Regions from separate parts of the Homo sapiens genome. Here region 2 is linked to region 1. The links come from fine-mapping of genetic effects on gene expression. A gene starts in region 1. The other region holds a variant in brackets. All regions are shown on one strand. Distances are from middle to middle.

Region 1 (15,071 bases):
TGTATGCACTTATGTATATGTGTATGCATGTGTGTACACACATATTCTCATACACACACTCATATTAGAAACCCAAGTTTTAGGACAGAATGCTATAAAAAATGAAAAGTAAAGTCTTTTCCGATTTTGAACCCCCCTTCCCATTTTGCAAAGTTAACCACAACTAAGTTTCACGAGTGCGTCATTCGGAAAATTCATTCGGAAAATTAGACAGGATTACAGGAACGCTCTCGATGACTTTGAGAAAAAAGCCAGTTCCCTAAGGTCAGGGCTCCTTGTGAGGTGAGGGCAGGCATCCATGCTAAGCCAGCCCACGCTGCCCTCCCTGCCTGGGAGACGGCACAGCAGCTGGGCCTCTGTGTCCTCACCTGTGCTTCCTGGGGCAAAGGATGACAGTGACCAGAGGCGAGGACACGGGAAAATGACGCTTGGGCCTCTACTGGGCCAAAACAGTTGGCACCATCACACCCAGGTCATCAGAAGGCAGCTGGGGGCCATGGGCCTGGCACCGTCTCCAAGGCCTCTGAGGCATCCAGGGAGACAGCAGGCCCTGTACAGCCCTGGCCTTCTCCATCCTCCCCAAGGGACAGGCACTCTCCTGCACATCCTCCACAGGGTGTGGCTGCCCTGTGCTCCCACCGGGTACACTGCCCAGGGCTCCTTGGCCCACCCCACCCCTCCACATCCACTGCCCGGCAATGGGGCTGAGCGAAGAGCCAGTCTTACTGAATCCAGGCAGGCAGCACCCAGGGACCCAGTGGGCAGCAGGAGCAGCTCAGAGAAGCCTGAGGAACCCCCATCCCCGTGCATGTGTGCCTGGAGGGCACCAAGGGTCAAGAACACACTGCAAACACAGCCATCCACGTGAGGAGCCTGGCAACGTGTGCAGGCACACGAATTCCTGTTCTGCAGTGGCCATGCTGGACTCAGGAGCGAGGCTGAGAGGGCGGAGTCCTGCTCCTGAGTTTTTTTAAAAAATCACAACTCAGGTATTTGTATAAAAATGTGGAGAAAAAGATGGCCCACTTTTGGGTAAATTCTATGCAGGGCCACCAGGCAGGGAGGGGCAGAATCTGTCCCTGGACTCAACCCTCATCATAATCCTCTCTGTGGATTAGCCAGCGTGGGCAGGCGGGCACCCAGCAGCCTCCTCCACTCTGAGACAGCAACGCCCGTCCAAGGACTCAGCTCCAAGGTGCACAGGAAGGCATTATGCTTTCCAGGATGTAAGTTCTTGCCAACTCTGGTTCCGAGCAGCAGAGACTTTAGAAATGGGGAAAATGGGCCGGGCGCGGTGGTTCACGCCTGTAATCCCAGCACTTTGGGAGGCCGAGGCGGGAGGATCACAAGGTCAGGAGATCGAGACCATCCTGGCTAACACGGTGAGACCCCATCTCTACTAAAAATACAAAAAAAAATTAGCCGGGCATTGTGGCGGGCGCCTGTAGTCCCAGCTACTCGGGAGGCTGAGGCAGGAGAATGGCGTGAACCCGGGAAGCAGAGCTTGTAGTGAGCCGATATCGCACCTCTGCACTCCAGCCTGGGCGACAGAGAGAGACTGTCTCAAAAAAAAAAAAAAAAAAAGAAAAAGAAAAAGAAAAAAAAAAGAAATGGGGAAAACGCATCAGAACCATAGTGGGAAATACTCATACCCACAGATTCCAAGGAAAGTACCGAGAAAACCCTGGGTGACAGAAACCACTTCATGACTCCAAAACGATATATGAATGTGTGACTATGAAGAACCTCAGCTGAACTCACTAAGATCCTGTACCATACCATTTACCGCTCTCTACTAAATCTATATCCTTGCTTTAGCCAGAGGATTAAAACATTGCACGTATTACAGACCCTGATGGCTTTGATACCTCTTTTCAGATCTTAATGTGCTGTTTTCTGTCCAAAGAGATACTTAAGCTCCTCACTAAATCTGTAGTTAAATGACAGATGGGCTGGCTGGAGGAGGAGGTGTCCCCGCATGGCGCTAATCCGAAGACACACAGCAGCCCCTCCCAGGCGGCAAATGCTCACAGGTAAATGCAGGTACTCACTGGTTTATCTCAACTGGGAACTTAGCTGGGTTTCTGCGGGTTCTTGAGTGTGTCAGCCACTACTGGACCCATTTCTTTCTTTGGGGAAGAAGGCTTTCTTGGCTTGAAAGACAGGCTATTTCACTCTGTGGAAACTTTACAAGAATATATCACATCAAAGTAAAAGCTTTGCAAAGCAATGCTTGGTGAAAAGCAAAATGTTTCTGCAGAGAACTTTGAGAACGTTTACAAACTAAACCCTTGAGCCACACATTGCAGACATCCAGCAGAAACGACTGGATGTACAAACACACCTAATTCCTCAGATGGAACCTCTGAAGTGGCAACAAAGCAAGCCCCCTCTCTGAGAGGCCCCAACACCTCAAGCCAGGATCTCTGCCTGGCTTCGGCCCAAGGGAGAACAGCTGCCCAAAGCCTTCAATCTCGGGACCAGGAGCCTCTCGATGACCCCCTGCCCAAGAGCCACTGGGAGCAGCTTGCACCCTGAGGTCTCGGGGAGGAAAGCAGGCCCCTCTGGGCACTCTGGCAGTGCCCTGACATCTGTACCTACCCATGAGAGTCTCTGCCCTGCTTCTCGCCAGGGCAGTGGGTGCACACTTTTGGACAGAACACACCTCAACCGGGGGCTGCAACTATGACAGGGATGACGAAGTGGCCTCCGGGGACCTCCAGGGAGGGGCTTGATGTTTCCCCCCAGGGAGCCAGGAGGGAGTAGGAAAGGCAGGAAGAGAGAGCATGCCTGAGGCAGCCATAGCTGGGGCAGGAGCAGGGCTGGGGAAGCCCTGGAAACCACAGCAGGGGTTCGAATTTCATCCGGGGGCGTCCCCGCTGAGGGCTTCCGAGCAGCAGAGTGCAGGAGGAAGAAAGCCTGCTGGGAGTGACTCAGGGAGAGTGACCAGGGAGAGAGCCTGGTGGCTGGGTGGGGGTGAGGATTGAAGAGGAGGAATGGTTGAGGGGCACAGAATGAGCGACCGTGTCCCAAGTCCTCCTTTGAGGGGCACAGCACACGGCAGCTGACAGCGTGTGGCAGACAGAGGGCCAGGCAGAGCGGCGGCAGAGGGGCCGGCACCGCCCCAGCCCCAGAGTCCAGCTCCCGACACACAGGGAGACGGGGGCCAGGGCCTGGGAGCCAGGCTGGGGACGACCTCACCCTGTGTGTCACCAGGAGGGGCGGCACCATCGGGCTCTCCTGCTCCCCGTCCCCTTCCATACCCTGAGGACCAGCCGCATCAAGGGGCTTTGAGCAAAAGCAGGCGTCCTGGGAAAATGACAAGCTCAAACTGGCCTCAAGAACTTTTCACTTCAGGGTTCTTTCAGATAAAGTACTTTATGCATTAACAAATCTCCATCTTCCCGGAAATCTATTCTCACAATTGGAAGCGTGCTCCCTACAAACCGGACAGCCCCATAGGCCCCGAAACAGTGCTTGCTTCTAGGAATTATTCTAGAGTCAAAAGTAAGGTCCTCTTGAGAGTGGATCTCAGGTAACTGTAAGCCCAGCTGGCAGCCAGGTAGCCGGAAAAGCCAGGCTGAGCCAGCACATCCCCGGTGCAGCTTCCTGCAGCGAGCGGCCCCCTCCCCACGACGCCCCCGGGTCTCCCCTCACCACTGTCCCATCGCAGGATCTCAGCAAACCGTTCCCTCCCACGTGGCAGCCCAGGTTGCATAAAGTTGATTCGGGTCAGACCAGCCCCGAGAAAGCATCCCTTACAACAGGAGCGAAGCATGCACCCCAGAAGGCAACGTGCGGCCGCAGAGCAGGGAGACCCGTGCGCCTACAGGGGACCCTACAGGGGACCCGCACCGCCCGCGCGCCCTGTCCCGGGCACCACCAGGCCCCGCACACGAGGCTCACCCAGAGCCGCGGTGCCCTCCCGCCCGCGGGCCGCGTCCAGGCAAAGCCGCTCCGGAGTCCCCGGGCTGCGCGCAGGGCCTGCCAAGGCGGGCGGGGCCCGGACCAGGGACGAGCGCGGGGACCGGCGATGCGGGTCCAGCCTCCCGCGGGAGCCGAGGTCGGGGCTCTGGGAGGCAGAGAAAGGGTTGTGGGCCCGGTTCAGGGTGCAGGGGTCTGGGGGGAGGAGCAGAACGCGGGGCGGGGATGGGAAGCGGGGACCCCGAGGAAGGCGCTGAGGGACCAGGATGCGCGTGCGGGCGGCGGGAAGCCGGCGCCGAGACCGAGGCATCGGGTGCGGGCGGCGGGGACGCGAACTGAGGGGCGGCCGCGGGGAGGGAAGGCGCCGCGGCTCGCAGGGCCGCGCCGCGCCCCAGGCCCCCTCCCCGGCCCCTCCTCGGCCGCGCCTCCCTGGCCCCAGCATCCCTGGCGTCCGCGCCGGCTCCCGGGGCCGCGCGCCCTGGGCACCCACCTGGGCCTTCTGCAGGGCGCTGAGGCGCAGCTCGTGCACGAAGGGGTTCCGCCCCGGGGGCGCCAGCAGCCGAGCGTCGCTGGCCCCTGCGCTGGAGGCAGGGGCGGCCCGGGGTCCGCATCCCCGCAGCCTCATGGCCGCGCCGTCCCGCGGCGAGCGCAGCCGAGCTGCCTGGGGCGCCGAGCGGGGCCGGGGCTAGCTGGGCGCGGGTCTCGGGGCGCGGGCCGAGGATGCGCGGCGGCTGGAGCGGGCCGGGCGCGCAGGCGCGGGAGGTGACGTGGGCGGAGCGGGAGCGCCGGCCGGGGCGGGGCGTCCCTGGAAGCCTCGCCTCCCGCCGGCCGGCAGGGGCGGCACCAGCCGGAGTTCCGCTACCTGGTGGTTTCTCTGGGGTCTGTGGGGGGCCGGGGCCGCTGGGGACCGGGGGCGCCTCCTGCAGCCACTGGAGCACAGGGATCCCCGGCAGGGTCTGCGCCAGGAGAAAGGGAGGTCCCCCGGGCCCGCGAGGCTGCCACGTCGTCCCCTTCCGCCGCTCGGCCCGCCTGCTCGCGGGGAGGGAGGAAGGGGCGGGCACGCGTCCAGCTTACGCGCAAGGCGGGCCAGGCCCTGGGTGCCGAGCCCCGGGCTGTTCCGGCGAAGGCCCCACGCCATTCTTCTTATTCGTTGGGCTCCTAGCTCGCACCGGCGACCCTGGAAGCTGCCCCGGGCTGAGGGAGCTTCTTCCAGCCGCGCCTCAGCCCAGGCGACTCCCGCCTGAGGTCCACTCGACCTTAGGACCCCCCAGACCTCGGGATCCCCTCAGATCTCAGGACCCCTCAAGCCTCAGGACCCCCTCAGACCTCAGGACCCCTCCGATCTCAGGACCTCTCAGGCCTCAGGCCCCGCAGGGATGGCCCAGGCAGGAGGCGCACATAGGGGCCCTGACTGTCCGTGCTGGTTGTGCAGGGGCTGCGATGAGATCCCAGCGCTTTCTCACCCGTAGCTGCTTTGGCTCGGGCATTGCCCTTGTGGTGCTCAGGAGCCGTGTGAGGAGCCCCAGGGTGGGGCCCATAATTAGCCGGAGCGAGAGTAGGATGGGCTCCTGCCTCCGGGTGAACACGCTTGGATTTCAGAACTCACGCAGGCCTTCGGTCACAGTGCTCACGGCTTCCTCACCCCGGCTGGCCCTGTTGGTTCCTTCATGGCCAACGGACCTCACCCAGACAGAGCCGGTTTGGGCCACCTGGCCAACCCCCCAGGGTCCTGGCTCCTGGGGATGTCACTGCTGTGTTGGCCCCAGCTGGGCCCCATCCTCAGCAGACGCCAGGGAGTGCCCCGACCCCTCCAATGACCCTGCCTGCGCCCTTGTGGACCTCATAGTGCAGCGGGCTGGCAGAGACCCTTCTGTGTCTGAGACCGGGGTGAGGGCCAGGGGTCTGTGCCATCCACATATCATGCACAGAGAAGGCCCCGGCAGGCCAGACCCGCTGCATGGCCTTATTCCTGCCCCATAAGAGTCCCAGCCCATATTCCTGCCCCATAAGAGTCCCAGCCCATGCCTAGCAGCAGCACCTGTCCCAAGTGCCACACCCACGGGGATGGGGTGAGCCCTGTGTGCTGGTGGGCATTGGTGGCTCTGTGGCCCAGCCACCAGCGTTGCACCCACCTCCTGGGCTTTTAGTGGCCACTTGCTCTGATCCCCAAAACCAGAGCCCAGCACCCGAGGCCACCCAAGGCTCCTCACCGAACTGATCATCAAGAAAGCCCAGGACACAAAGCCTGCCAGCCACAGGGCAGCACCTGCACCCCAGCGATCCAGGCGGCCCCACCTGCTGCCTGAGTGCTCTGGAGAGGAGGGGCCCTAGGGTGTCCCAGTCCTGGGATGAGAGCAGCCTCAGGACTGGACTTGGAGAGCCATGAAAGTGGGGTCCTCCCAGAAGCACAGGCCAGGAAGCGGTGTGTGGCGGAGGGGAAACCTGCTGGAGATGGTGCAGAGCCAGATTCAATGGGGAGAGCTGCCAGAGAGTCATGGCTGTGTCCCCAGAAGATGCAAAAGTCCTAACCCACAGCACCTGTGGCCGCGACCTTATTTGGAAACAGGGTCTTTGCAGATGATCAGGTTAAGAGGAAGTCATTAGGGTGGGCCCTAGTCTGAAATGGCTTGTGTCCCTATAGAGAGGGAGATTCGGTCTCAGAGACAGACACAGAGAGAGCTCCATGGGAAGGCCAGGGTTCTGCTGCTACAGGCAAGCAGTTCCCAGGAGCTGGAGAGGCCTGGAGCAGGTCCTCTCTAGTGCTCTCAGAGGGAGCCTAGGCCTAGGGTGCCATGATCGCAGGCTTCTGGCCTCCAGACTGGGAGAGAATAAATTCCTTCTGCTTTAACCTGCAGAGTGCAAAGTGAGTTGGAACCCAGGGAAGGAGGTGGGGAGGCTGGGGGAAGAACCTCATACTGCCCGGCAATCTAAGCAGGGTCAGCAGGTTGTCCTTGAGCCAAGGTCGGTGGAAAGAGGAGTCCCTCTCCCAGAGGGGTCTTAGGTGGAGCCACTGTGGGCAGCGTGGCCTTGGTGTAGAAGCTCAGTGGATCCTTGGGTCACAGGCACCATGTGGAGGAGGCGCAGAGGCCCAGCTCCGGGGTCAGTACACAAGGGGGCACAGCTGGGAGGGTGGGTGTGACAGGGCCAAGGGCTGTGCAGAGCAGGGGGCAGGACTGGGGCACACTCGTCCTCACCAAGCAGAACCCAAGAAGGCCCCAGAGAGCGGCCAAGGAGCGGAGGTCCCCAGAGGGGCTGAGTCCACGGAACTGCCCCATCCAGGAGGACTGGCCAGGAGAGAACTGGGAAGGCCAGCCAGTGGTAGTAGCAAGGGTGGAGACCACCACCCTGCAGGGTGCTGTGGAGTGGGCAGGAGTTACAGAGGTTCTTTCCCAGCTACCTGAGAAAGGAGGAAGCGTGATGGGCAGGAGGAGGAAAATGGATGCTTGGCGGGAGGCTGGGATCCAGGGCAGCAGCTCAAGGAAGGGGCCCAGGACATGTTCCTGGGTGGAAGGCAACAGGCCAGCCTCACAGGAGACGTTGAAAACCCCTGTGAGAGGGGGTGTCATGGGCCCATCTCAGTCTGGAAGGATTCTGCGCTCAGAGGAAGGAAAGGCCTGGGGCCCGGAGCGGGGACTCCTTCTCTGCTGCAGCTGGAAGGGGTTGGATGGTCCACAGGGCACGTGCCCAGGGGGTGGGGAGCTGGGGCACTCTTGTGTGTGGGAGTCAGTTTTCTCCTGGGGACTGCGAGGGGTGGGGGAGAGGGGCTGCTTATGGGGAAATCAGCGCAAGCGTGGAGGAGCAGCAAGGAAATTCCTCCACCCACACTGGGCCTTCACACTTAGGCTTTGGTTCTGCTATGTAATGGAACGTTCTTAAGACCTGGAGGGTCTGGAAGCTTGACTAAGAGAAGTTGGTCTTGGGTGGGGAGGTATAAGCAGTTTTCTCTGTCTAGCAGGGGAAACATGAGTTTCTCATTAGGACTTAGTTTTGGGAAAACCACCCTAAGGGCCCTTTAGCTACAAAGGGAGCCCCCACTGTGGTTCTCAGGAACCTCCTGGAAGCCCCCCACAGCTCCCTGGGGCTGGTAACCACACCCCTGAGGCTTCTTGCTCTGGTTTTGTCTCTGTTTTAAGAGTGTAAGCTCACAGAGAAGTGTTTCCTATACTCCAAGTGCATTGAGAACACAAGGTACCTGCTTGTTCTGGTAAGGCTGAGTATTTTTGTTTTGTTTGTTTAATTTTTGAATTTTAGAGTTATCTATAGGATAGAAAAAGATATTCTCCTTCATTTTCTACTAACATCTTTTTTCAGTTCTGCCTTTCATGGTTGCATTTTATTCTATTTGAAGATTTTTTTCTCTGCATGGAGACCTGATATTCTCAACACCACGTATCAATCACAGACTCCCACTTGTGGGTCCACTTCCAGCATGAACAGAAAGAAGGGTTCCTGAAGCTCCTTCTGGCTGCCCCATCTCACCCATTGGTCCGTGTACTCCTTTACTCCCGTCTCACCCGCCGGTCCGCGTACTCCTTTACTCCTGTCTCACACCTTTCAACCGTCTGCCTTAGTAACTGTAGAGGGGGTTCCTTCCTGTTGGCGCTTCTTCCCAAGAATTGTAGTAGGAATTCAGGGAATTTTATTTTTCCATCCAAATTTTGGAAGCAGTTGTCCCCATTGCTAAAAATTCCCGCTGGAAGCTTCCTTTTGAATCACATTAATTGTACAGGGTACTTCAGTAAGAATGTTACTTCATTCTTACTGTTCATTCTCCCTGTTCCCTAAGAATGTTACTTCAGTAAGAGCTGGCTGGTCCTGGGAGGGGCCCTCGAAGGGCCAGCAAGGCTCCAAGGCTCCAAGGCTTCAAAGCACTAGAAAATACAAAAAAAAAATTTTTTAAATGGATGATGTGGCATGGACACTTTATAATTTTGAGAACGATTTTTCACCAACATGGTTATTCTACCATTTATTTAGATGTTCTTTCATGCCCTTTGATAGCATTTTAAATTTTTCTACATAAAGATTCTGTATTTTTGTTAATTCCTTGATGCTTCATACTTCTGCAGTGATGTAATAATCGTTTCAAAAATTACTCTTGGGCCGGGCGCGGTGGCTCATGCCTGTAATCTCAGCACTTTGGGACGCCGAGGTGGGCGGATCATCTGAGGTCAGGAGTTCGAGACCAGCCTGGCCAACATGGCAAAACCCCATCTCTACTAAAAATATGACAATTAGCCAGGTGTGGTGGCACACGCCTGTAGTCCCAGCTACCCGGGAGGCTGAGGCAGGAGGATTGCTTGAACCTGGGAGACAGAGGTTGCAGTGAGCCAAGATCACGCCACTGTACTCCAGCCTGGGCAAGAACAGAGCGAGACTCTCTTTCAAAAAAAAAAATTACTCTTGACAGTATGGATTATATGGAGAACCACTACTGCTTGTGTAGAGGTTGTATGAAGACAGACCCCAGGGTACAAGAGGACCTGTGGATGTTCCAGATGAGGAGTGCACAGCCCCAGAGTGAGGGACTCCATCATGTACAATGGATGGACTTCCTATTCAACCCACAATCATGACAAACAGAAAATTGTGGTGGTTTTCAGTCACTACAGACTGAGATGGTTTGTTAAGCAGTGATAGTGTCTTTCAAAGAGCAGATATTTTAAATTTTGATGAAGTCCAATTTATCAGCGTTTTCTTTTAGGGATCATGGTTTTGGTATCCTCTTTTATAAATATTTACCTGCATCAAGGTCATTCAGATTTTCTTACTTCAGAAGTTTTACAGTTTTGGCTTTACCATTTAGGTCTGTATTCCATTTCAAGTTGACATTTGTACACGGCATAAAGTAAAGTGGAGGCAGAGGTTTTTTAGTTTCAAATGTTTTCGTCTGAATATTCAACTGTTTCGGCACCATTTGTTGAAGAGAATATTCTTTCTCCATTGAACTACCTTGACAACTTTGTAAAAAAATTAAGTGGCCATATATGTATAGTTGAGTCTATTCCTGGACTCTGTATTTTGTTCCATGGATCTGTACATCTGCAACTGCCAACATCACACTATACTGATTACTAAAGCTTTATATTAGTCTTGAAATTAGACTGCACTGCACTGGAGTGCAGTGGCCCGATCTCGGCTCACTGCAGACTCCGCCTCCTGAGTTCAAGCGATTCTCCTGTCTCAGCCTTCGGAGTAGCTGGGACTACAGGCATGCACCAGCACGCCCAGCTAATTTTTATATTTTTTAGTAGAGACGGGGTTTCACCATGTTGGCCAGGCTGGTCTCGAACTCCTGACCTCAGGTAATCTGCCCGCCTTGGCCTCCCAAAGTGCTGGGATGACAGGTGTGAGCCACCATGCCCAGCCAAAATTTTAGAATCATTTTGTCAAGAAACTGAAGTATCCAGGAACAAACAAACAAAAGGTTGGTGGGATTTTTAATGAGATTGTGTTGAATCTATTGATCAATTTGGGAAAATTGCCATCTTAGCAATATTGAGTTATCCATCCATGAGCATGGTATACAGATCATTTATTTAGGTTTTCTTTAATTTCCCTCAGCAATGTTTTATAATTTTCACTGCATAGGTCTTACATAGGTTTTCGAATTCTGTTCCTATTTCATGTTTTGATGCTGTTATAAATGATACTGCTTCTTAATTTCAATTTCCAGAAGTGTGTTGCTCGTATATAGAACTACAACTGATTTTATGTATTTACTTTGTAGGCATTAACCTTGCTAAATTCATTTATTAGTTCTAGTGACTTTTTTTGTAGATTCTTTAGGATTTTCCCCATTTCACAATCATAATACCTGTAAATAAGGAGCTTTATTTCTTCCTTCACCAGCAACACGTATGCCTTTCGTTGTTTGCATTTCCTCTTGTTCCACTGACTGTGACATCCTCTACAGAATGTTGGACAGAGTGCTGAGACTGGGCATCTTGTCTTGTTAACAATCTTGGGGATTGTTAGTACCCAGTGCCCAGTCTTGACATGAGCTGTGGGTTTTCACAGATGCCCTGAAAAAGGATGAGGGTGTTCCCTTCTATTGCTAGTTTACTGAGTAGTTTTTATCATTTTGGCCAAAAAGCTTGCTCGCGTCTATTGAGATTATCTTAAAATTTTCTTCTTAATCCTGTGAATATGGTGAATTGAATTGGTTCATATTCTGATTTTAAACCAACCTTGTTTTTCTGGATAGGCCTCACTTAACCATACTACACGATTGATTTATTACCGAATTTAAATTGATAAATTTATGTTAAAGATGTTTGTGTCTATGTTCATAAGAAATATTGGCCGTAGTTTCCCTTTCTTATAATGTCTTTGCCTGATTTCTAATGAGGATAATACTGTCTTTAAAACATGAGTTAGGAAGTATTCCAAATTCTCTATTTCTAAGTAAAGAGTGAGTAGGGTTGGTATTATATCTTCCTTAAATGTTTGTTAGAGTTCATCAGGGAAGCTATCTGGAATGAGAATTTTCTTTTTCAGAAAGATTTAAAGATTATGAATTTGAGTGCTTCATTAGATAGGTGTTATTCATCTTTTCTATTTCTTCCATCTAAAAACCTAAATTTTTTTAGTAATTTAGATATTTCCAGGAATTTGTCCGTTTTATCTAAGTTATTGATTTATTGGCATAAAATTGTTTATCATAATCCCTTTTATCCTTTTAATATCTATAGGATCTAGACTGATAGCCCTTGTTCACGTTTATAATATTGGTAATTTGTGTCTTCTTCCTTTTTCTTGATCACTTTGGCTAGAGGTGTATTTTGTTATTGATCTTTAGAAATAGCTGCCTTTTGAATTCATTGATTTTTTCCTATTATTTTTCTGTTTTCTATTTTTGTTGATTTCTGTCTTTATCATTTTCTTTTCTCTCCTTATTTTAGGTTTAATTTGCTCTTCTGTTCCTACTTCCCTAAGTAGGAAGTATAGACCATTGATTTTAGACCTGCCTCATGTAATACCACAAATTTCCTTCTAAGTTCTGCCATATCTACATTCCACAAATGGTGGCATGCTGATTTTTCATTTTCTTTCAGTTTTCAATGTACTTTCTCTTTTCCCATGTGGTTTCTTCTTTGATTACTGTGGCTTTTTTGTTATGTGTTAACTTCCAAATATTTGGAGAATTTCCAGTTAATTTTTATTATAACTTATTTGTGGTCACAATACATACTCTGTATGATTTCAATCCTTTTATAGTCTGTGTTTATGACTGTTCAGGTGTATATTATAAGAAAAGGTTCTCTTGTTTTTGTGTGGAGTGTTCTATGAATGCCAGTTGACTCCATTGGTTGATAGTTTTGTTCAAGCTTCCTGTATCTTTGTGCTTTTCTGTTACTGTTATATGAATGACTGAAAGACCAACTATAATTGTGGATTTGTTTATTTCACCTTTCAATACTGTTAGTCTTTGCTTCGTATATTTTGAAGCTATGTTATTAGGTACATATATATTTGAAATTATTCTGTCTTCCTGGTGAATCAACCTTTCCATCATTATGTTATGTCTCTCTTTTACTCTGGTAACATTTCTTTTTTTTTTTTTTCTTTTCTTTTTTTTTTTGGGACAGAGTCAGTCTATCGCCCAGGCTGGAGTGCAGTGGCACAATCTCGGCTTACTGCAACCTCCACCTCCTGGCTTCAAGTGATTCTCCTGCCTCAGCCTCCCGAGTAGCTGGGATTACAGGTGCGCACCACCATGCCCAGCTAATTTTTGTATTTTTAGTAGAGGTGGAGTTTCACCATGTTGGTCAGGCTGATCTTGAACTCCTGACCTTGTGATCCACCTGCCTCAGCCTCCCAAAGTGCTGGGATTACAGGTGTGAGCCACTGCGCCCAGCCTCTGGTAACATTTCTTGTTCTGAAGTCCACTTTGTCTGATATTCACATAGTCACTCCAGATTTCTTATGTTTAGTGTTTGCGTGGCATATTTTTCCATCCTTTTAATCTTTCTGTGGCTTTATATTTGAAGAAGGTTTCTTGTATACAGCATAGAGTTGGATCTTGCTTTATTATCTAATCTTAAAATCTTTGTCTTTTAATAGGCATGTTTAGATCATCCATATTTGATGTGTTAATATGGTTAGATTTAAATATACAACCTTGCTATTTGTTTTCTGTTGTCTTATCTGGTCTTTTGGTTTACTCTTTAACTGCAGTCTTCTAGATTAATTTAGTATTTTATCTCCACCATTGGCTCATCAGCTATACCTCTTTGTTTTAACTTTTTAGTATCTGCTATTAATATGTGTATTATTGGAAGACATTTTAAATAATACACTGCTTCACATATAATTGAAGACCTTTGCAGTATTACACTTCCACTTCCCTTTTCATCCTTTAAGCTAGTGCTTTCATACATTTCACTCTTATATATGCTGTAGGCCCCACAATATATAATTTTTTTGTCTTGAACAAAGTCTTTTCAAGCGATTTTAAAAAAATTAAGAGGTTTTTGTATTTATCTGTATGTTTGCCATTTCAAGCACTTTCATTGCTCTCTTGAGATTTGAGTTTCCTTCTTGTATCACTTTTCTGCCTTCTGAAGAAATTTTACTAATTTTTTTGCAGTGCAGAGCTGTTTGCAACTAATCTTTTGGATTTGATCTGTATAAAAAACTTTTTTATTTTACCTTCGTTTTGTAGGATTTTTCCCCTGATAAATATAGAATTCTAACTCAACAAGTTTTTATTTTGTTTGTATATTTATTTGCTTTTGAAATTTTGTCTTTATTACTGTTTTCCTGCAAATCAGTTATGATGTACCTGTGTGTGAGAAATCACTGAGCTTCTTTGATTTATGGGTTTATACTTTTAATAAAATTTAGAAAACTAATAGTCATTATTTCCTTTTTATCATGACTTTATTGAATTATAATTGATATATAATAAACCACATAAATTTAAAGTGGACATTTTGCTGTTTTTATATATACACACATATATATGTACACACACACACACACACACACACACACACCCTATGAAATTGCCACTGTATTTAAGATAGGAAACATAGTTATTATTCCCAAAAGCTTTTTCACTCCCTTTTGTAATCCCTACATCCCACCCCTACACATTTCATCCTCAGGCAACCCCTGTTCTACTTTCTGTTGCTGTAAGTTAGTTTGCATTTTCTGAAATTTTATACAAATAAAATCATACAGTTTCTTCTTTGGTTCCAATTATTTCACTCAGCATAACTATTTGAGGTTCACCTTTTTTTTTTGTTTTTATCAATCATTTACTTGTTTTTATTGCTGAATAGTATTCCATTGTATGGATATTTGTTTATCCATTCTCCTGTTGATAAATATTTGGGTTGTTTCTAGTTTGGAACTATTACAAATAAAGATGCTGTGAGCATTTGAGTACAAGTCTTGGTATGGATGTATGGCTTTCATTTTTGTTGGATAAATACTTATCAGTGGGAAGCTGGGTGATACATTTTGAAAGAAACGTTCAAACTCTTGTCCACAGGGGTTGGACCATTTTACATCCCCCAACCCAGACTGTGTATGAGAGTTTCAGTTCTTACATATTTTTGCCTACACTTAGTATGGTAAGACTTTTAGGTTTTAGGCATTCCAATACATATGCAGTGGCGTCTCGTTATGATTTTAATTTGCTTTCCCTTTGAACAATGACCTAGAACATCTGTGCATGTGCTCATTTATCATCCACAAATCTTCCTGATGTGTTCAAATATTTTTCTCATTACAGTATTTTTCTTTGTTTTATTATTAATGGGTCTAGAGAGTTTTTATATATTGTGAATACAATTTCTTTATAAGATAAGTGATTTGCAAATATTTTGTACCATTCTGTGGCTGCTTTTTCATTGTTTTAACAATATTTCTCAAAGAGAAGTTTTTAATTTTTTATGTTCAATTTACCTTTTTAAAAAACAATCATGCTTTTGATGTTATATCTAAAAATATCTCTGCTTAATTCAAGGTTATGAATAGTTTCTCTTGTTTTCTTCAAGAAGTTTTATAGTTTATATTTTATAATTAGGTCTATAATCCATTGTGAGTTAATTTTTACATGGTATGAGGTATAGATACGAGTTTTTTATTTTTATTTTTTTACCTATAGATGTAGAATTGTTCCATATCATTTGTTG
Region 2 (8,000 bases), 33 kb before region 1:
GGACTTTTAGAACCACCCAACACACAGCAGGCTGACACATCAACTCCAAAATCACACTGCACCAGGAGGGCGGGTGAGCAATGCTCTATCTGAGTCAGAACTTAGTTCAGAAAAGATGATTCAGGAAGCTGAGATGCATTTGAGAATTGTTTTTCTTTACTTTAACTTTAAATTTCGGGCACCGAAACCAAATGCACCTGACAGCACCCTCCTGAGTTCACGCACTCACTAGGAGAAGAGAATCAGAATCCAGCCCCGGAGGAAGGGCCCCAGTTTCTTTCTCCCCACTCGCGAAGTTCGCATCTTTCGGAATAAAACCACTGAAACACAATCAGGGCTACGTGCATTACCTGTGGCCACTTTCCGTTGGACTGCGCCCGTCTCTTGATTTCTTCTACTGTTTTCCTGCGAGAATCCTGGTCTGACCGGGACACGAACACAGGCCGTATATACTGGATCAGAGCTGGAAGAGAGGAGGGGAGACGGATCACGTGGAATGCACGGCTCCCGCCAGGCAGGGCTGAGGAACGAGGGGGCTGCTGCATGGCGCCCAGTGGGGCGGGAGACTCCAGATGCCCCAGGGGCTGTGCCATGGGTGGGCTGTGAGTCCCTGACTGAGGGAACGGGAACAGCACCCGGGCTTCCCATGTCTGTGACAGCAGGAAGCCCTGTAGCCTCAGTGCCACAAGTAACAAACAGCAAGTCCATGGCACCCACTGAGGACACGGAGCACAGAACGGAGGTCAATGAAAGACAACCGCCAGGAAGCAGAAAGTCTTTAGACCCAGTCTTCACAGAGGACAGGGTTGAAGGTGCCAGGTCCCTAGATTGGACCCCGCCTTCCCCCTGTGGGTTGAACTGCATCCCCTAAAAGACAAGCTGAAGTCCTCACTCCTGGTACCGGGAATGGGACCTCATTTCGAAACAGGTGGTAGCAGATGCTCAAGGTCCCGGATGAGGGTCCCTATGGGAAGAGGAGACAAAGCAGATGCTCAAGCTAAAATCCCAGATGAGGGTCCCTATGGGAAGAGGAGACGAAGAGGGGGAGAGAAGGCCAATGATGAAGGAGGCCATAGGAGGATGTGGCCACAGCCCCCACCACGAGCCGGGAGGGCCGAGGGAGCTTTCAGAAGAGCCCAATGCGGCCAGCACTTTGTTCTGGCACTTCTGCTTTTAGACGGCGGGAGAATATGCTCCTGTTGTTCTAAGCCACCAGCTTTGTGGTGCTTTGTAGCACAGCCCCAGTTTAACCATGGCACCCCACAGCCTCCTGGAAGTTGCGGGGTTGGGGTACAAGGGACACCCCGCCATGAAGGCTGGTGCTCAGCCAAGGCAACGTGGCCACGGCACCTGTCTTTATGCAAGAGGATTGAACGTGGAAACATACTTCTTAGAAGAGAAAACTCTGAAGACTTTAAAATGAAACTATCCCTGAGTGGAGCTTCCTTTTTGAGGACGGTGAGCAGGATCCACACTCGGCGCCCCCCAGGCCAACTGAAGGTGTCTCTGACCCCACCACGGGCTCCTAGGCTGCTGCAGGTCAGCCCCACCTCCCCACCCCAGTTCAGTTTCCAGTTTCTTTTCTTAGCGTTTTTATTACTTGTAAGGAGTAGCATTTCATGACTTTTATTCTTTCTTGGAGGTTCTCTCCTCCAAGAACGAGAAAATTGAAGCCAAAAAAAGAAAATTCCTTCTATCCTGTGGTTGTCTGTTGGGTCTCTGTGGTCTTTCCTATGTCTTGAATCATTTTGCTTTTTCACGATTCCAGTACTATTTCATCCTTGCTCATTGGTTATTCCCAACTCTGCTAAAAAGGACGATATCGGAAGGGAAGAATGGCGGAGTCGTCTCGCAGGATGGCGCACGCGTCAAAGAAATGGCCCTGATTGCGTGGTCTTTCGGTGCCCACTGTTTTGGCCAAAGCGTCCCATGGTCGTCCCGGGGCACACGGGGTCTGGAGATGCCACCCTGCCACCTTCGCAATCCTGTCAGCTGGTTTGTTTTGTGAACAGAGTAGAGATTTCAGAAGTTGTCTATAACGGCAAAGAACAGAACAGTGACGTGGGGGCGTTTCACACTCAGATGGGTCCGGGGGTAAATGTGGGGGGTGCAGGGGGAGGACTCTGAGTGAAGTCTTGGGCCGTGCGTCTTCATGTGGGTTGCCCGGTGTGCCTTTCACGCTGAGAACTGGGCAGTGAGGACAGCAAGGAGATGCAGCTCCTCCCCGGGAGCCCTGAGGAGGGAAGGGTGTCACCACGCCGTGTGCACAGCCACACTGGGACTGGCGCATTTTGCCAGCAAGAAGGTGACAGCGTTCTGCCGTCTTTTGGGCATTTGAGGCTCAAACTTTCCTTGACAAGGTTTGTAAATGGATGGTGCGGATATGAAGGTCACTGAAAGGAAACTAAGAATGTGAAAAGGAAAAAATCTACCTGGTTGATCACTTTCATTGGTATTCATACATCTAAAAATGAAAATATTTTGAACATTTTCAACATTCATCTCTTCAACAAAGTTGTGAGCTGTCAAAGGGTCCACGAAAGGAACCAGAAGTCACCACAAGCTGGGACCGGGGAGATGTCTCTGAGCTGGAAACCTGGGAGACGTCTCTGAGCTGGGACCAGGGGAGATGTCTCTGAGCTGGAAACCAGGGAGATGTCTCTGAGCTGGGACCATGGGAGATGTCTCTGAGCTGGAAACCAGGGAGATGTCTCTGAGCTGGGACCAGGGGAGATTATCTCTGAGCTGGGACCACGGGAGATGTCTCTGAGCTGGAAACCTGGGAGATGTCTCTGAGCTGGGATGGGGGAAGATTATCTCTGAGCTGGGACAAGGGGAGATGTCTCTGAGCTGGAGCCTGGGGAGATGTCTCTGAGCTGGGGCCTGGGGAGATGTCTCTGAGCTGGGGCCTGGGGAGACGTCTCTGAGCTGGGGCCTGGGGAGACGTCTCTGAGCTGGGACCTGGGGAGATGGTTTTGAGCTGGAGCCTGGGGAGATGGTTCTGAGCTCCCGAATCAGAGGGTGCTCCAGGTGCGCAGTAGAGGAGTCATCAGCCACGCCCCAGGACAATGGCCCTTTCAGGCCAGGACAGCAGGGAGCAAAATGTGGTTCCTGCTAAGTCTGAATTCTAACGAAAATTTCTGATAAGCTTGTCACTATCCTCTCCCTCGCAGGTCCGTGGATTATCTCTGAAATGACAAGAAACACGCAGGGCTCCACGAGGGCCCTGCACACAGCAGCATGGCTGTGGCCATTCTTCCTGCTGCGCCGAGATGAAGGTCAGTGCTGGGTCACCTGGGTTGATCTGGAAGAGGTGGAATCCCGGGCCTCTAGAAAGATAGGACTACAACGTCCAGCATCACCGCACCAAACACTCCTTCGTGTTGGTGATCTCCACAGGGAGGCACCAAGGGCACAGGGAGAGCCCGGCCAACGCTCAGATTCACTCTGGGTGGGCCAGCCCCCCTGTCCAAGGACCCCTGCAGCTGCGAGGGTGCCTGGGCACACAGCTCCACAATCCCCCTCCCTGAGCAGATGACGAACGACCATGGGCCTTTGCCACAGTGGGGGGGCAAATGTGGTTTCCTGGGTATGCCAGAACCACAGGATGCAAAGGGTGCTGAGTGGAGCTGGGGCTGCCCCATGAGCCTGTGGAGCTTGCAGAGCGGGGAAACCTGCGTGTGAGAGCCAAGGCCATCACTCGGATGGTGCCTGCAGTCCAGTCTCGCCTCCAGTGCCGGCCTGTCCAGCCTCCTCCAGGCTTCCCCAGCCAGCCGAGTGCAGTGAGCCCTCCAGTCCCACCAAGGACCATCCCCGATTTCCAAGCCTGACCCAGGCAGACTCAGGCCACCCACAACTGCCCAGCTGCAGGCACAGTCTGGACACCTTCCGGCTGCTGCAGGCCCAATCCCCCATGGGCCATGCCAGGGTTCCTCACCCCACTTCCAGCCTTCCTATCCCAGCTGTGGCCACCACCCTCAGTGGTCAGCACCACAGAATGTGTCCCCACCCAGTCCATACTGAATGTGTCCCCCCAGATATTTTCTAGAAAACTGTCATATGAATGCTAACGTTAGGTGCTGCATGGAAACAGAGCCGGCAGGAGTGGCCAGGTGAGGGCCCCGGCCATAGGCGACGCCCCTCGTCCCAGCAGCTCCTTCCCTCAGCACCGCCCACTGCCAACCCAGGACCCGCTGTGCCCCAGAACGTGCTGTGCTGTGCTGATGGCGGCTGTGAAGGAAGCACGAGGACAGAACGGGCCCAGATGCCCTGAAGAGCACCGAGGACAGAGCTCTGGTGGGTCAGGGCTGCGCACAGGTGGGTGAGGGGCCACGCAGGGCTCCCTACAGTCCTCCCAGAGCAGTGGGTCCATGGGATGCGGCCCCCAAAGATGGGTCCACATGCTGACCCTGGAACCTGTGAATGAGGCCTTATTTGGAAAAAGGTTTTTACAGAGGTAACTCGTTAAGGATCTCAAGATGAGAGCATCCTGGATCACCCAATGACTGGTCCTTATAAGAGACTCATAGAGGAGACACTTGGAGGGAGCCAGGCCAGTCGACCACTGAGGCAGAGTCAGAGGGACGCAGCCCCCAGAGGAGGAAGAGGCAGGAAGGGGCCGCACAGGGCCTTCGGCCCAGAGACGCCTTGATTTTGAACATCTGGTCCCCAGATGACGAGAGGGTGAATCTCTGCTGGAGTGAGCCCCCGGCTTTGGGGAGGGGTCATGGCAGCACCAGGTGCTCAGGTCCCTGGTTCACGGCACAGCCGCGGTGCATGGGCAGCCCTGCCGACCTGCTCCCAAAGACTTCCAGAACTGCCATCTGATAAAGGTGAGCCACCCTTGCCAAGCAGACCTGGAGCAAGCACTGTAGCCTGTTATGATAGTGAGGGCACTCAGGTAGCAATAAAAATAACAATTACAACAA[C/T]GAAAATTACACAGGAAACCCCAACACAGAAAATGGGGCACAAGGCCAATGTGCCCGGCGGTGGGGGCTCGATCACTCCCAGCAGCGTGGTGGGGGGGGGGTCCCTCACTCCCGGTAGGGAGGGTCTCACTCATTTCCAGCAAGTGGGGGTCCCTCATTCCTAGCAGGGAGGGATCTCTCATTCCCAGAAGGGGGGGTCCCTAAAAACCAGCAGGGAGTCCCTCATTGCCAGCAACAGAGGGGGTCTCACTCATTCCCAACAGAGGGGGGACCCTCACTCCCAGCAGGAGGGGAATCTCTTATTCTCAGCAGCAGGGGGATCTCTCACTCCCAGCAGGGCAGGGTCCCTCACTCCCAGCAGGGGTGTCTCACTCACTTCCCCAGATCGGGATGTCTCTGCTCTCTGCCTTCATCACGATGGAGGACATCGTCATGGTCACAGGGATGGCGTCGAAGTAGGACGAGTGAGGCGCGAGCGTGAGGATGGCCGCCTCGGTGGGCAGCGCCTGCCGCCCCTTCACGGCCACCCGGTGGAAGCCGCCGGCGAACCACATGGTGCGCATGATGGCCTTCAGCAGGAAGTCCACAACCCTGCAAAAGAGGGCGCTGCGTCACGCGGGCACACGTCCGCAGTCTCGGAGTCTGTGTGAGGCACAGGGGCGGTCCCACGGGAGAGCCCTCCAGGGCGCAGTCCAGGCCACGGGCTTCCTGTGGTCGCCGCCGCTGGGACATCTGCTTGAGGGAAGAAAAGACGCCGCGCCTTCCTGGCCTCCGCCTGTGTCCTCGCTGGCTGCGCTCTCACCTACGAAGGAGGCCGCGGGGCCCTGTGTGGTGGTCACGGGCCACGCGGCAGGCAGTGCTAAGACAACATGAGACTCCGGAACACAGACAGCACAAGTCCCAGGCCAGAAGACCTCCGGACCTTCATGTTAGCAACTTATTTATCAGCATCCTATCATTTTGAAATGGGAAAAACATTAAAACACCTAAAACGCATATCGCAATATGGGGGGGGGGGCGCTCAGAGCTGAGGGCGGAAGCTGAGACCTGCGTGCGAACTTCCCCATCTCATCTCCACAGGAAGCCCGGGGTTCCCACAACCAGGCGTTGTGTTATTACAGTGAGCTGTTTCTGGAGGAAATTAGATGGCCAATAAATTTGGAAAATAAAGTAAAAATCAGCCTAGGTTAACTGAATTTGTGTACTCTTTATCTCTTTTTAAAATAGGTACAAATTTAGCCTTTTAAATGTGTGTATTCTCTTTCATATGAGGCTACAGATTAGGCTGTTATTCCACACCTCAGGGAATTGACACGCAGCAGACAGCCACGGTGTGTGAGAAGCCACAGGTCAGGCACACAGAGAACATGATTCAGCCTCATGAGAAGCCACGGCTCACTCGGCCACTGGGTTAAGTGGGCGCATCACACTGGGTAAAACTACTGCACAGAGAAACAAGAGCCTGAAGCCTTACTGGATTCACATTGCCCTGGGACAGATGATCCTCCCAGAAGACTTCCAGGACAGGGGTCCCCATGGATCTGAGCCAAGGCGGTTGCTAGGAGGGCACAAAGCCTCCTCTCGTGGGGCCACCTTGGAATGGCCTTTGTGTATGCGATGATAAACAATGGTGTAGTTACACATGGAGATGCTGGGGACCAACCCAGGGTGCTGCTTGTCTAGAGGAGGGGGGATTACACAGGTGTGCACTTCTTCACCACCTGTTCAGCTGCATATTTAAAAATGTACTTTTCTGGCCAGGCATGGTGGCTCACGCCTGTAATCACAGCACTTTGGGAGGCCAAGGCAGGTGGATCACTTGAGGTCAGGAGCTCAAGACCAGCCTGGCCAACATGGTGAAACCCTGTCTCTACTAAAAATACAAAAATTAGCTGGGCATGGTGGCAGGCGTCTGTAATCCCAGCCACTCAGGAGGCTGAGGCAGGAGAACTGCTTGAACCCAAGGGGCGGAGGTTGCAGTGAGCCGAGATTGCGCCACTGCACTCCAGCCTGGGCAACAGAGTGAGACTCCATCTCAAGAAAACTAAACTAAAAAATAAAGATGTACTCTTCTGTGCACATGTTATTTTCCACAAAAAAAAAAAAAAAGTACAAAAACAAAAGCCAAAAGACAGCAATTGATGCCTAAGATGGAAGAAACAAGGCAGCGGCGGAGGGAGAAGCGAGGCTGCAGAGGAGGCTGCGGCGGGCACAGGAGCCAGTCTCGGGCAGGTTCAGGGGCAGGAGAGAGGACAGCAGGAAAAAAGGGATTAAAACCCGGGCGGCCCTTAGAGGAACACACCTGCCAGCCCCGAAATCGAATTGCAGGGACAGACGGTGCTCAGGGGAACTGTACTGGGTGTCGGGGCAGGGAAAAAGCAGCCTCAGCTCTTCTCTAAAGATCTTGGAGGAATTTTATACCCAAACTATCCACATGTGAAAACCCGGACTGCTGGTGTGGATGACAGCCTCAGAGAAAAGCTCCGCTTGCTGTGGGGTTGGGGACCCAGCACCCACTCACCCCAAGGCAAAGGGAGCCAGCACAAGCCCAGGGTGCTCAGGTGCCTGGGCAGCCCATTCCCAGGGGAATGTGAATCAGGAGACAGATCTATCTGCATACACAGGAGCGGGGATCTCCATCAGCACCCCCAGGAAATCCACTCCGTCCTACCGCCCTCACACGGACGACACCCAAGAATCCTGAGACGTGTGAGCAGAGCAGCTGCATGGCAGAGAAGCAGAGGACTGACCCCAAGGAGACAGAAAGGGTGGGCATCAGAAGAGGGGTGCAAAACATCCACCACGCTCGCCAAGAGAGTCTGGAAGAACAGGGCGCTGAGGAGCATCAAAGAACAAGAAAACACTCTCAGAAACCAAGACTGTCACTGTGGAGACAAGCAACTCACAGGAAAGACTGGGAAATGAGGAGGAGGAAATCTCCCAGAACATGCAGGGGGAAAAGGAGGAAGGCCGCTGAGGCCTGCATCTCCTCAAGCCAGCTGGCATGTGGAGGTGGGTGGGGGAAGCCCACACGTCTAAGCGTGAGGGGCAGGCGCAGGCCCCGGCTCTGCA

Evidence for each region.
Region 2: its variant is fine-mapped to the expression of LPCAT1 in lymphoblastoid cells (TwinsUK, PIP 0.95).

What each region holds. Positions count from the first base shown.
Region 1 is chr5:1,519,296-1,534,366 of GRCh38, forward strand. It overlaps LPCAT1 (lysophosphatidylcholine acyltransferase 1), which reads right to left and starts at 4,665. Exons shown (of 14, transcript NM_024830.5): 1 at 4,415-4,665. The coding sequence starts at 4,549. RefSeq lists an enhancer at 2,188-2,692, silencers at 3,853-4,052, 4,323-4,632, 4,653-5,052 and a cis regulatory region at 5,822-6,057.
Region 2 is chr5:1,489,396-1,497,395 of GRCh38, forward strand. LPCAT1 (lysophosphatidylcholine acyltransferase 1) reads right to left here. Exons shown (of 14, transcript NM_024830.5): 3 at 5,305-5,519; 4 at 351-463. It overlaps LOC124901162 (a long non-coding RNA gene), which reads left to right and starts at 136. Exons shown (of 2, transcript XR_007059103.1): 1 at 136-3,278; 2 at 4,077-6,124. RefSeq lists an enhancer at 4,542-5,741. The variant C/T (reference allele first, on the strand shown) is at 4,929.